4 linked regions of the Homo sapiens genome follow. The protein of the gene in region 3 purifies or fractionates together with the protein of the main gene of each other region. This does not show direct contact. Each region holds a gene or a part of one and is shown on either strand. Other genes may lie near its edges.

Region 1 (3,570 bases), on a different chromosome or scaffold from region 3:
GTCCTTCCAGTCCACCTCCACACGTGCATATGTCAACTTTGTGTGTGTGTGATGTGGGGGAGGGGGGTGTACTCTTGAAAAATACACAATAGAATTATTTGGAGTATTTGTTGCTAATTTACAGAAATGATACTATGCTGTAAATCCTATCTGATTCTTACATTTTCATTCAACCTATATTTTTGGAGCTATTTCTGTTGCTCTAACCAACAGCCAGTTCACTACTGACTTTTGCAAATCTTCCTTCATAGTCATGGGCCATTTCCTTCATGATGGGACACCCATATTTCTTCTAACTCCCTTATACATGTAGTCCTGTATATCCTTCAACTTATGCAAACTCCATCACAATATTATAGACTTTGCTAGAGTTTCTTGGGGCATATATTCAGGAGTTATGCACATATATAACTTCACAGAATAATATCAGATTGCATCCCAGGGCAGTCACACTAGTTGACACTTACACCAATAGTGCATTAAGTTAGCTTCTCCCACATTCTGTAAACTGATATCTTCATAGTTTCAATTTTTATTTCTCTTTATCACTAGGAATGTTGGGCATCTCTTCAATTACATATTAACTGTTCATCTTACACCTTCTTTGAGTTGTCTGTTAATATCATTTGTTCATTTGTCTTTTGAATCTCATGCCTTTTTCCTCTTGATTTTCAGAGTTCCTTTTACAGTTGATATTGTAATCCTTAGCCCTTTGAGAAGATGCAGTGTCTTTTGCAAGTCCTTTCCCCTTTGAGTAGTCTTGCACTCTGTTGAAGATGATTTGAACATATACACAAGGGTTTATTACTGTGCTGTCTGTTCTATTCCATATGTCTATTCTTTATGCCAGTGTCATGCTGTTTTGATTACTGTAGCTTTGTAATATGTTTTGAAATGAGGAAGTTTGAATCCTCCAACTTTATTCTTCTTTTTTCAAAATCCTTTTGGCTATCCAGGGTCTCCTGATATTTCATAAAGATTTTTGGATGAAGTTTTTCAAAAAATGCCATCGTTATTTTGATAGGGATTATGTTGACTCTATAGATTGCTTTGGTTAATATGGACATCTTAACAATATTAAGTCTTCTAACTCATGAACATGCGATATATTTCCATTTATTTGTATCTTCATTTCTTTCAGCAGTGTTTTATAATTTTTATTTTACAAGCCATTCACCCCCTTGGTTAGGCTTATTACTAAGTAATTTATTCTTTTTTGTGCTATTGAAAATTGTTTTCTTAATTCCCTTTTCAGATCATTCATTGTTAGTGCATGGAAATGCAACTGATTTTTGTGTGTTGATTTTGTATCCTATGATTTTGCTGAATGTGTTTATTATTTAAACAGTTTTATGGAATCTTTAGGGTTTTCTACATATAAAATTATGTCATCTGCAAACAGATATAATTTTACTTCTTCCTTTCCATTTTGGATGCCCTTTATTTCTTTTTCATGCCTACTTACTGTGGCTAGAACTTCTAATACTGTGTTAAATAGAAGTGGCAAAAGTGGACATCCTTGCATTGTACCTGATCTTAGAGGAACAGTTTTCAGTCTTTCACCGTTGAGTACAGTATTAACTGTGGTCTTTTCATAAATGTCCTTTATTACGTTGAGTTAGTTTTTTTTCTATTCCTAGTTTGTTGAATGTATTTATTATTATTAAGAAAGGGTGTTAAATCTTGTCAGATGCTTTTTCTGCATCAATTGAGATGATCATGTGGCTTTTGCCCTTCATTCTGTTAATGTAATGTATTAATTGATTTTCATATGTTGAACCATCCTTGCATTCCAGGAGTATCATAATGTATAATCCTTTTAATATGCTATTGAATTTGGTTTGTTGAGAATTTTTGCATCAGTAGTCATCAGAGATACTGGTTTGTAGCTTTTTTTACCCTTCTTCATGTCTTTGGCTTTGATATCAGGGTACTGCTGGCATCATAGAGTGAGCTTGGAAATGTTCTCTTTAGTTTTTTTGGGAGTCTCAGGAGGATTGGTGGTAATTATTCTTAAATGTTTGGTAGAATTCTCTAGTGAAAACATTTGGTCCTGGGCTTTTTTTTTTGAGATGGAGTCTCGCTCTGTCACCCAGGTTAGAGTGCAGTGGCACAATCTTGGCTCACTGCAGCCTCTGCCTCCTGGGTTCAAGTGATTCTCCTGCTTCAGCCTCCCGAGTAGCTGGGATTACAGGTGCCTACCACCATGCCCAGCTAATTTTTGTATTTTTAGTAGAGATAGAGTTTCACCATGTTGGTCAGGCTGATCTTGAATTCCTGACCTCAGGTGATTCACCTGCCTCGGCCTCCCAAAGTGCTGGGATTACAGGCATGAGCCACTGCCCCCAGCCATGGGCTTTTCTTAATTGGGAAATTTTTGATTACTGACCCAATATTCTTATCCATTAATAGTTTGAATGAATTGTTTTTCATATTCATTATTCCTGCTATCATTTGGTTACCATCTGCATGGAATATATTTTTCCATCCTTTCACTTTCGGCCTATGTATCCTTAGATCCAAAATTAGTCTCTTATAGACAGTACATAGTTGAATTGTTTTTTTTTTTTAATCCATTTACCCAATCTGTATCTTTTGATTGGGGAGTTTATTCATTGACATTTAAAGTAATCACTGATAGGGAAGACTTACTGTTGCCATTTTGCTGTTTTCTATATGCTTGTAGCTTTTTGCTTGTTTTTCCCTTATTCTCTTACTGCCTTCCTTTGTGTTTCTTTCATTATTTTTTCTAATGATAGGTGTATTAGTCCATTTCCATTTTCATTGCTGATAAAGACATACCTGAGACTGGGCAATTTACAAAAGAAAGAGGTTTAATGGACTAACAGTTCCACCTGGCTGGGGAGGCCTCACAATCATGGCAGAATGTGAAAGGCACAATTCACATGGCAGCAGACAAAAGAGAGCTAGCTTGTGCAGGGAAACTCCCCTTTATAAAATCATCACATCTCATGATACTTATTCACTATCACAAGAGTAGCATGGTAAAGACCTGCCCCTATGATTCGATTACCTCCCACTGGGTCCCTCCGACAATACATGGGAATTGTGGGAGCTACAATTCAAGATGGGATTTTGGTGGGGACATAGCTAAACCATATCTATAGGATTCTCATTTATTTTATTTTTTCCTTTTGTCTCCGTGGGGTACAAAATCTCATTTCTTTTTGTGTATATTCTACAGGTATTTTCTTTGTGGTTACCATTGCAATTACATAAGACATCTTTAAATTATAGCATTCTATTTTAACTTAAACTTCAATTACATAGTAAAACTTTACTTCTTTACTTCCACCCCTTCACACTTTGTTATTGAAGTCACAAATTACATCTTTATATACTGTATATCCATTAATATACATTGTAGTTGTAATGTTTTTGTCATTTAAATTTTATGCACCAAAATTACAATAGTATTGGTTACTGTATTTGTCCATGTGCCTCCCTTTACAGGAGAACCTTATTTTTCCATACAGCTTAATGTTGCTATTTACTGTCTTTCTATTTCAACTTGAAGGACTCACTTTAGCATTTCTTGTAAAGCAGGCT
Region 2 (3,570 bases), on a different chromosome or scaffold from region 3:
CAGGCTGGGCCTGGTGGCTCGTGCCTGTCATCTCAACACTTTGGGAGGCCGAGGTGGTGGATCACTTGAGGTCAGGAGTTCAAGACCAGCCTGACTAACATGGCAAAACCCCGTCTCGACCAAAAATACAAAATTAGCCGGGCGTGGTGGTGCATGTCTATAGTCCCAGCTACTCTGGAGGCTGAGGCAGAAGAATCGCTTGAACCTGGGAGGCAGAGGTTGCAGTGAGCCGAGATCAGGCCACTGCACTCCAGCCTGGGCAACAGAGCGAGACTCCATCTCAAAAAAAAAAAAAAAGAAGAAAAAAAGAAAAGAAAATACCACTCAAAATGTGTCCTGAAGCACTCTGTGGAAGTCGGGAGGCTTCAAGTGTCACTGGCAAGACGGGGGCATGAGCTTGTGTCCTGCACTGAATCTGAGGCTTAGCCTGGGAGGTCTAGCCCCTTGGCCAGGCAAGGTGTGAAAGGGACAGTAGAGGGGGACAGAGGCAGCTGCTGAGCACACGGGGCACAAGCCTGAAGGCAGCTCCCCTGACCAGCCATATGGAGAGGCCTCTAGGGCATGAGCTTACATTCCAGACTTCAGTATTAAACTCATTCCCAATGGGTCCTGCAGGCCCCTTCTTCCTTTTCTCTGATGTAATTCTTGGGGAAAGCTCCAGAGCCCAAGGAATGGGAGTCAAACACCTCTGACTTCAGAGATGGCACATGGCTAAATGGCAGCCCAGTGGAGACCTCAGAGCAGCCCACTCACCACAAACGAGATCCTACACAGGGTCCCTGAGCATGCTGGACTTTAAGACGGGCGTCTGATAAGACCCTTGTGAGTATTTGGGTAGGAGACCAAAAGCATTTCTGCAAAGGGTACACAATTAGCCCTGCTTATAGAGTGGGGGCAGCTGTGACCCGCTGACCACTCCTGGGAGGGGGCTAACTTGGGGGCCCAGGAATTTGAGCAAATGATGAGGCACAATTGTCCCCAGCTGGGCATTAGATCACATTGGGCCCCACCCTGAAATAATCCCTCGTCTCAAACTTCAGACATCAGTCAGTCAGCTCAGGAGCCATCCAACAAAACCAACTTCATATTTTAAACCAGCTTAATGCTACAAACTTTTCTAAAAAGTGCTGTCCAGCTGAGCCTCTGAGAAAACCTAGCTCCCTGAGGGGTGGATGGCAGGCCTCTCAGACCAACCCCTGAGCCTCTCTCCAGAAGTCATAGCCTTGGTTCAGCCCAGAGCACCCACATCCCAGGGTGGGTGGGGGAGAAGAGCAGCTGAGCTGAAGGGACAATGTGGGATGATCAAGCCTCTGGGGGAACAGGCTGAAGCCAAAAGACCCCCTCAGGACCCCAGGCCTGCAGAGGTAACATGAGTTCCTCTCCCCATTAGCTGTGAAGGCCTGGTCTGCCATGAAGACCTCTCTCTGTCACCCCTTCAGTATACCTGGGAAAAAAGGAGTGAACAAGTCACCAAGCCCCAGTCACCTCTGTCCTTGGGGTCTGAGTGAGCTCTGAGGGGTGGAGTCCTTAATGAACCATCCCCTTCAATAACATGGTGAAAAAATTCCTCCCAGGGAAGCAGAGAATGATGCCAGTGCCACATGGGGGGCAGAGGGGATGCTTTTGGCAGTTTTTTGTTTTAATCTGACCCTTCTTTACAGTGGGGCTGCCTCTGCCTACCAAGTCCTTGGTGCAAAATGGCTCCTGGACCAGCGCAAGGCAGAAACTCTGAGGAAAAGTGCCCGCCACAGCCATGACAGCTGCCCCCATGCTCCTGTCTGTTTTCCACGGGAGCTTGTCTCTGCTGGACCATTTTTACATCTCAAGGGGAGAGGTAAGGACTTCCTCAGGAAAGGGGTCTCCTGAGCAGGTGGCTCCTGTTTCCACAGGAGCCTCAGTGCTACCTGCCCTAGGATGGCTCCCTGGGACCATCTCTGGGACAGAGGCGACCAGGAAGCCAAGACCGGCAGCTCAGCTGGAGATGTGAGGCCAAGAACAGGGGAAGAGGCAAAAGGGCCCACAGCTGCCGTTTACTAGAACCATGAGGCCTAAGTGCAATTAGCATTCTAGCAGACTGGACAGCCCCTCAGAGTCCCAGCCCCCACCACAGTGGGGAAACCAAGGATGTAGCCTGGGCCCCTCCCTTGGAAACCCAGACCTGCCCTGGAACATGGACAGTGATGGGCCTGTCTGCAGAGGTCTCACTAAAAACTAGAACAACCTCCCTGCTAAAACTCAGGGAGGACAAACAAACAACTCAACCTGAAATAAATACAAAGGCATTATGTGCTTCTTGGTACGTCGAGGGTCCTAATTACCCCTCAAAAGGAGGTAGCAGGGCCTTTCCCTGGACTTGGCCACCTCACCTGCAGCCTTCTTGTGAGAGGTCAGAAGTCAGAAGACTGGATGGGCCTCCCTAGGCCCAGCTTCCATTAGGAAGGTGAGGACCACCCCTTATCCACTCCTCACCCGTACCATTCATATCTCCCCACACAGCTTCTGCCGGCTGGGGCAGGAAAGGCGAGGAGACCCCATGCCCTGAGGGCAGCACCTAGTGTCCAATGTCCCTGTGCAGGCAGAGGGGCTGTCAGCCTGTCTGTGAGGAGGTAGAGTCGGGGGCAGGCTGCTGGGGGCAGGCAGGGCCACTCAATTAATCAACAGGTCCCCAAGGTCGTAGGAGTCGAAGAGATCGCTGATGCCCTCACCCGCCTCCAAGCCCCACAGGTAGTCGTCCTGGTCCAAGGATGGGGAGAAGCTGATCAGAGGGGAGCTGCACGCCAGGGTCGGGGACAGGAACTGGTCCTCAGTCTGCTGCAGGAGTGGGTGCGGCAGCTCCAGCAGGCTGTCAGTAGCCTCCAAGGGGACCAGGGATGGAGGCGGTGGGGCCTGCTGGGGGGTTGGCGCTGGTGCTGGCACTGGAGACAAACAGACAAAGGTTACGCCTGGCCCTAGCATCCAACTCCTCAGCACGCGAGGACAGACTTCCGGTTCTCTGGATGACTGCACCCTTCTTCTCTCTCCTTAGCCTGGGTGGACTGTCGTGCTCTCAAAATCCACCTTCCAGAGTCTACACCCAACCCTACAACTTTTCATGTATTTTTTATTTTTTTGAGACCGGGTCTCACTCTATCACCCAGGCTAGAGTGCAGTGTTGTGATCTTGGTTCACTGCAACCTCTGCCTCCCAGGTTCAAGCGATTCTCCCACCTGAGCCTCCCGAGTAGCTGGACTACAGGCATGCACCACCACACCCAGCTAATTTGTGTATTTTTAGTAGAGATGGGGTTTCACCATGTTGGCCAGGCTGGTCTCGAACTCCTGACCTCAAGTGATCGGCCTTCCAAAGTGTTGGGATTACAGGCCTGAGCCACTGTGCCCGGCCAAAAAGGAAAGAAATTCTGACACATGCTACAACATAGATGAACCCTGAGGACATTAAACTATGTGAAATAAGCCAATCACAAAAAAACAAATACTGTGTGATTCCACTTACATTAGATACTTAGTCAAAATCGCAGGGACAGAGAGTAGAAGGGTGGTTGTCAGGGGCTGGGCAGAGAGGGGAATGGGG
Region 3 (3,570 bases):
TTCGTTGGAATCTTTCAATATTACAGTAATTCCCAATGTGGTGTAAATACAGAGTAACATTTTATTTTAAAGTGATTTAGAAAAAAAGTAAAATTAGAACTCAAACCTGTGATTTCTTGGGTACTGTGTAGAATGAATAAAAGACTTTTAGTTGAGGTTTTGTTTTTATTTTTCTTGAGTAGATTATTATTATTATTTTTGATGAGTAAACGTACCACTTATATTTAGGTCTGGCAGGAAACGTGAAAGTGAAATACTGCTTAGGAAATACCTGTTTGATCTTCAGCAACAAATATAACATGACACGAAGGCCTTCTTCTGGATCGTGGTTCAGTTATAACAATAGCCGCTCCTCCTCTGCTGTGTGCCATTTGCTGCTCTAAAGCACAGTACAATACATAATCTCTTATCCCCATAACAACACTTTGAGATGGTTATTGTTACCTCCATTTTACAAATGAGAACTGGAGCTTGAAATATTTGTCTCCTAAGATTACAAAGGCTAGTGAATGACAGACCCAGATTGGAAACCAGGTCTGTGTATTTCCACCTATGTTCTTAGCCACTTTATTATACTCCCTCACTATCCATGTGTGAAATCTAAGTATTTGGTTTTCCTTCAGTACTTTTGACTTAGCAAAGACAAGTACTTTCAGGAAGCCTTAATTTTTTTTTTTTCGCCCCTTTCACTTTCTCTGTTTTAGCACCACATTAAATACCAGCATTTGCTGAAGAAGAAATATGTATGTCCCCATCCCTCCTGTGGACGACTCTTCAGGCTTCAGAAGCAACTTCTGCGACATGCCAAACATCATACAGGTACTTTTAAAATGTGTTTATCAAGTAGGTAATTGCACTGTGCTTTAGTTTTGCATGTTGGTAATGATAACGTTTTTCTAACATAAGTCTTAAAAGATTCTATAGTCAAGTGCGGGGAAAAGGTGTGAAAATAAAATGTAGTAAGACAAATTTTACAAGGGATGGGCAGACTAGGACTTTTGAATTTTTATCCTTTGACTTCTTGAACTTCTATGACCGGGATAATGATCTTCTATTGAGCATTTATTCTGTATCAACTGTGGACTAAATACGTTATGTATATTATTGCTAATTAGTCTATTCAACACCACTAAATTTGTTTATATTGATCTTATTTTACAGCTAAGAAACTAGAAGCTTGGCAGGATTAAGTAACCTGCCCATGGTCACATAGCTAGTTTTTAGGAGAAGCATAATACTCTGCTGCTATTGAAACTGTGAAGTCTAGCTGTTGAATTTGCATGTAAACTCCCATAGGAACTGTCAAAAAGAGTTGCTGAGTGTCTGCAATATGTATTATAGAATAGACTCAAATTCAATTTATTTGTAACCACTGACCATCTCAGTGCAGTGTACCTAATAGGAACAAATTGGGTGCATACCACTGAGTATGTCCCAGACACTTGATAATTACACATTACCTTCTCAACAGTCTTAGAGAGTAAGTCTAGGAATTCTAGTTGTAGAAATATGTCTCCTGCCCAAGGTCATACTGATAAATGAAATAACTCCTTCATTTACTGTAGGAAAGTTACTTAACTTCTCTTTTCACTTTTCCTTCTCTGTGTATTAAGGATACCAATATCAGTTATTGTAGGGATGAAATGAGATAACATAAAATGCTATTGACTACACAGAGCCTGGCACAATACCAGGATTGAACTTGAATCTTAATCACTCCAAAGTCTACAGTTTTCTTATACCATGTTTCTTCAGAGTTATTTCCACAAGTAACAGTTATTTCTGTTTCTTGATAGGTACTGCAATTTCTCTGTTCCTTCTGCTCCCTGTTAATACTGTTTTATGCCATAGAAAAGTTGTTTCTGACAGCCACTTTAGATTGTTTTAGTTAAATATCAAAAGCGTATGAAAAACTTTTATAAATTCAGTCCATTTCAAATATTTATATTTGGTTAATACAATTTATGATGTTTTACTTTTGCAAATTAGTATATACAGACTTTTTTTTGCAAATGTCATTTATTTAGCAAATAGATGCCCCACACAGGTTTGTCCTGCTATGGAACTGGAAATGTGGACATGACCTGGGAGATGCTAAGAGTTTCCTAAGTTAGAACTGTGCGTTTTTAGACCTTGCTATATAAAGTATGGAATACAGACCAACCAGCATTGACATCATTTGGGTTCTTATTAGAGATACAGAATCTCAGGCCCTGCTTCAGACCTGCTGAATCAGCATATACATTTAATAAGCTATCCAGGTGATCTCTAAGCTGTTTGGAAAGGAGTATAAGATTAAATTGGATATTGTTCACCTTTTAACTTAAATTCATGTTTTCATTCTCATTAATTCTGGTAATTTGAAGCAAAAGGAGTAGAAAATGTAGTGGTCATTAATTCAACAAATATATATAGAGAGCATCTCTTTGTGCACGGGCTTCCCAAACACGGTAAAGAAATGAATAAGTACAATGCTCCTTTTTCCTCCTCATAGATTCCACACCGTGTTACCACATTCATCAGAAATCCTGCATAATGGGGTTGAGGGTGTTGTGAGTGACAAAGGGAGGTAGTTGAAAGGTGCAGAAGATGGGTAGGAGAATAAGGTAAAGTAGTACAGGTGTTATTTACATATATTTGATAGCAGCAACTCCAGTCTTTTGAGAAAAGTTTATCTTGAGTAACATTTTTTAAACCTGAAACAGGGTATGATTACCTTTAGATCAGTTTTCTTCTATACAGTGCCAAGTTCTTGTTTTTTGTTTTTGTTTTGTTTGAATGCCAGATTCTTTCTGTGTAATCATTCAGTTTTCATTGTCTGTGAAAAAAATTGTTTACTCCTTAAAGGAGTAAAATATATGGAAAATATAGTTGTTTACTTGCTAACCACTTGGTATCCAAGACCTGGATTAGTGGTAAAATTGAGATTAGGATTCCATTTCTTATATTTTTATCTAGTTTTTCTGTTTGTTTTTGTTTTTTTTTAAACAGGTCCTTATGCTACTGAATGTTGGATTTTTTTTAAAGCAATACTTTTCTTTTTTAAATTTTGTTTACCCAAAGTGTTTATACATTGAAAACAGCATTGCTTTTACTCTAAATTGCCTGCCCCATCATCTGCTTACTTACTGTAAGGGAAAATATTTACAGGGTATCTAAATAGAACACTAACCACAGTATTTTCTTCATAGATCAAAGGGATTATATCTGTGAATATTGTGCTCGGGCCTTCAAGAGTTCCCACAATCTGGCAGTGCACCGGATGATTCACACTGGCGAGAAGCCATTACAGTGAGTATTATTTACTGGTGAACATCTGGGTGAGAAGGATATATGCCCTACTTGAAGGTTTGCCGCTTTACAAACATATTAGTTGCCACTGCTGTTTACTTTCATCAAATAAATGAGTGGATATTGATTGGGGGCATTAGTTAGTAGCCTTTTTCTTAGTTTCCCTCTGTTTTTCAGGCAAACAGAAGAAGATCAGATTAGTTTTCCATCTAGTAACATTTCCCAATCCTTCAAAAGAAGTATGTTACTGATTATTGTGTGTGTGTGTGTGTGTGTGTG
Region 4 (3,570 bases), about 19 Mb from region 3:
CCTATTTGGCAGGCATAGAAACTAAGGCTCAATAGATTAAGGTGCTTAAGAGTCTATAGTTAATGGTAGAATATGATTTCCAACCCAAGTCTGAGTCCAAAGCCACAAAATTATATACCTTGCCATAGTATCATGGTTTCCAAACTGCACCAAGGCACCCTAGAGCATTGTTGCCAACTCCATCTGATAGTTTAAATTTTCAAGTAGGATACAGTGGTAGCCGAAATTTGCTGGTTGCCAGGTGAGCTACTGCCTTGACATACTTCATGGTTTCAAGGTTGTGCCACATTTCTATAGATGATATGTCTTTGTGAAGCTGGTTTTTTAGCGGTTGCTGTGGTAAAATTCACAAAAAAGTCAGTATGCAGCAGGAAAGAGGATAGCAGGGTCCACTCTGATTCCAAGGTTTGAAAAGTTGTGCAGTGCCCAACAGTAATACACATTTCACAAGTAATTATGGTTAAGAATGAAGTAAAAACATTATTTGTTGAAATTTAGCTAGGTTATTTTTTCACATGGCTACTGACTACTTAATAAGTGGAAGTGTTATTATTTCTGGCCTAGGGCTGCTGTGAGAAAATTACTGAGATACTGAGGGTGCCGTGAAGCTAGAATGTTTGAGAACCTTTGCTCTAGAAACTATCATTGAATTTCGGGGCAAGAAAGAAGGGACTATTGTGTCATTGCCTTTATTTTTCAGGAGGAAAATCAAGCTACAGAGAGAGATTTCAAGTGTATACAGCTAACTGTTGGTGTTAGTCAAATTCTTATTTGAAAAGCCCACATATATGCTGAAATTGTCAACAAAAAATTTAGATTTATAGTTGATACTAGTTATAAAAGGATGTGCCAAATGAAGGTGGTGTTTTATCCTCCTCTCCCTGCAGTCTACTTTAGTCCTCCCAATTCTGTGCTTTGTGTGGACTTCCCCAGGTTTCTCCTAACTGGAGGTAGATGATGGTGGTTATGGATAAAGTTGACGTTGACTTTGTGAGATCCCTGACACCCAAGGCTCCTAAGTATCTTTCCTCTCCTGCAGAGAATATTTCTTTTCAAGAGGAAACTATACTACTGTATTCTTTAAAAACAGTCTGGATATTGGTTGAGATGTTACATATATCTAATAAATTTATTAAGGTAAATACAGATAATGTGTTAGGATTCTCATAGTTTATACTATGGTTGGCTGAATTAGTTGTATGATATTAAGTAAGTTGAGCCATTAGTTTTTTGTTTCATTTTTGCATTTAATGATTTGAATTTTAACTCGAAGTGAAAATATCAAAGTTAAAAAAATGCCTTTTTAACTGGAATTGTAACTATAACTTACTATGGTCTCTCTTACTGGTACTGTAACTGATCTGTGTGTAACAATATATTTTTAGGTGCATTTGATAAAGTGGAAAGGTGATTACTGTAACTGGGGCCACATGTGTTGATTTAAACAAAAGATTTTACCAGGTGCATGTACTAGAGGTTGCATGAGTCTACAGTGGTAGACACTGGTAGGGCATACATACATTAATAGTAGTATTGCTGGGGCCAGAGCCTGGTTAGGTTGAAACTTTTTAGTTGTGTCTCTTCTGCCTTTGAAAAAGCAAATATTCTTTAGGGCACTTATTAGATGAAAAGAGAGAAACAGATTTCATCTCCACCATTTTCGATATGTCATAGAGTAAAGTTACGGAGGTTTGGAGGGAGGTTGTTGTCATTGTCCTAGGAACTAGGAGGTAATGGAGACAGAGGGACTTGTCTGGCTAACATGAGCCTGTTAATGCAAACTGGCTTACTTTTTAGTCTTTTAATGATTAAGAAGTTTGCCTTAAATTTAGATGTTTTGTTAAGTTCTTAAACAGACCTCACCGGTAAGAAGGTAAGCAAGCATTTATTAGTGAGGTTATTCACTTAATATATATATTGAGCATCTGCTATGTACAGATGTAGCTACAGTAAATATTGTGGGGATTATTTTTTTAAAAAAACATTAAACATGAGCCTTTTAAAAGAAATTTCTAATCTAGTAAGAAATAGCTAAACTGAGCTTGAAACTAATGACATCATTCAAAGACTTAGTTTTTTTTCTCTGAGATTTTATCAAGTGGAGCAATAGTCCGTGCATTCTAGTCTACAGTTGTAAACTAAAATTATCTAACAATTTTATGGTGAGATGTATGACCACATGCAATATGAAAAAGAATAATTCAGGCCTAAAGTACATGTTAAACTGAATCATGTATTCAAGGAAGACAGTTATGTGTGTTGTTAGATTTAATAAAATTTTACTCTACCTGATGGGTATAGTCTTAATATATTATGCTTGGCTTTTTTTGTTTGTTTTCTGTTTTTATTGTAGAGTAGATCCCACAAAAGGTATTAGGGTATTTTCTATTTTCTTTTAAAAACATTTAATTATATGGGCAATTATAATGTACACTTTGTAATTACATATGTTCTAGCAGGCTTTGATTTTTAATTTGTTTAGCTTTATATGGTCATATCTGTACGTTAGGTTTGCATTAGCTAACTTTTAAACATTTTTGCTCGCTCTTGTACTGTTGGGCACAAGCAGTGCCTCCAGGCAAATTGATGCCTAAACTAGAGAGAACAGCAGGCATTCTCTCCTTACTCTTCCACTTCCCCTTTACTTCCATTTCCTGATCCTCATGTCTGAAGTCACACCACCTTTAGCCATTTGAAGGGGCTGCTTCTTCCATTTTACGCTTTCTTTCACTTGTATGCCATAAAGTGCAGTGCCTGCTAGCTCCAGTGTGCTCTGTATGAGGTTTGCACCAGTGTGTTAGGAAGAAAGGAGGCACTGAAATTAAAAAAAAACCATATTTTGGGGGTTTCCAAGTCACTAAACAATTGAACCACAATAATAGAGGAAACTGACTTAAACAGTATTAAACTGGTATTGCTTCAAACATTATCAAAGGATTTCTGAGGTGAATGCCTACTTTATAAAAATGTATTTTTTCGGCTGGGCACGGTGGCTCATGCCTGTAATCCCAGCACTTAGGGAGGCCCAGGCGGCGGATCACCTGAGGTCAGGAGTTTGAGACCAGCCTGGCGAACATGGTGAAACCCCATCTGTACTAAAAATACAAAAATTAGTCAGACCTGGTGTCAGGCGCCTGTAATCCCAGCTACTCGGGAGACCGAGGCAGGAGAATCGCTTGAACCTGGGAGGCAGAGGTTGCAGTGAGCCAAGATGGTGCCACTGCACTCCAGCCTGGGTGACAGAGCGAGACTCTGTCCTTTTTTTTCCCCCCCAGAGTTAGGGCCTTGAATTCCTGGGCTCAAGAAATCCTCCTGCCCCAACCTCCCGAGTAGTTGGAACTACAGGCACATGCCACCATGCCCAGCTAATTTTTAAAAATTTTTTTGGTAGAGAATGAGGTCTTGCTGTATTGTCCAGGCTGGTCTTGAACTCCTGGACTCAGGTGATACTCCCACCTCGGCCTCCCAAAGTGCTGGGGTTACAGGCATGAGTCACCACTTGTGGCCAAAACTTTTTTTTTTTTTGAGACAGTCTCGCTCTGTGGCCCAGGCTGGAGTGCAGTGGCGCGA

The links.
Region 1: the proteins of ZFP91 (region 3) and ADARB1 purify together in Homo sapiens (co-immunoprecipitation; one large-scale study listed by IntAct). This does not show direct contact.
Region 2: the proteins of ZFP91 (region 3) and E2F2 purify together in Homo sapiens (affinity purification with western blotting; one study listed by BioGRID). This does not show direct contact.
Region 4: the proteins of ZFP91 (region 3) and RSF1 fractionate together in Homo sapiens (co-fractionation; one large-scale study listed by BioGRID). This does not show direct contact.

What each region holds. Positions count from the first base shown.
Region 1 is NC_000021.9:45,186,056-45,189,625, forward strand, and holds part of ADARB1 (double-stranded RNA-specific editase 1), read left to right. Parts: intron 1-3,570. UniProt on the Homo sapiens protein: Catalyzes the hydrolytic deamination of adenosine to inosine in double-stranded RNA (dsRNA) referred to as A-to-I RNA editing.
Region 2 is NC_000001.11:23,507,234-23,510,803, forward strand, and holds part of E2F2 (transcription factor E2F2), read right to left. Parts: intron 2,916-3,570; coding exon 2,647-2,915; 3' UTR 1-2,646. UniProt on the Homo sapiens protein: Transcription activator that binds DNA cooperatively with DP proteins through the E2 recognition site, 5'-TTTC[CG]CGC-3' found in the promoter region of a number of genes whose products are involved in cell cycle regulation or in DNA replication.
Region 3 is NC_000011.10:58,613,525-58,617,094, forward strand, and holds part of ZFP91 (E3 ubiquitin-protein ligase ZFP91), read left to right. Parts: intron 1-704; coding exon 705-819; intron 820-3,191; coding exon 3,192-3,291; intron 3,292-3,570. UniProt on the Homo sapiens protein: Atypical E3 ubiquitin-protein ligase that mediates 'Lys-63'-linked ubiquitination of MAP3K14/NIK, leading to stabilize and activate MAP3K14/NIK. It thereby acts as an activator of the non-canonical NF-kappa-B2/NFKB2 pathway.
Region 4 is NC_000011.10:77,814,153-77,817,722, reverse strand, and holds part of RSF1 (remodeling and spacing factor 1), read left to right. Parts: intron 1-3,570. UniProt on the Homo sapiens protein: Regulatory subunit of the ATP-dependent RSF-1 and RSF-5 ISWI chromatin-remodeling complexes, which form ordered nucleosome arrays on chromatin and facilitate access to DNA during DNA-templated processes such as DNA replication, transcription, and repair.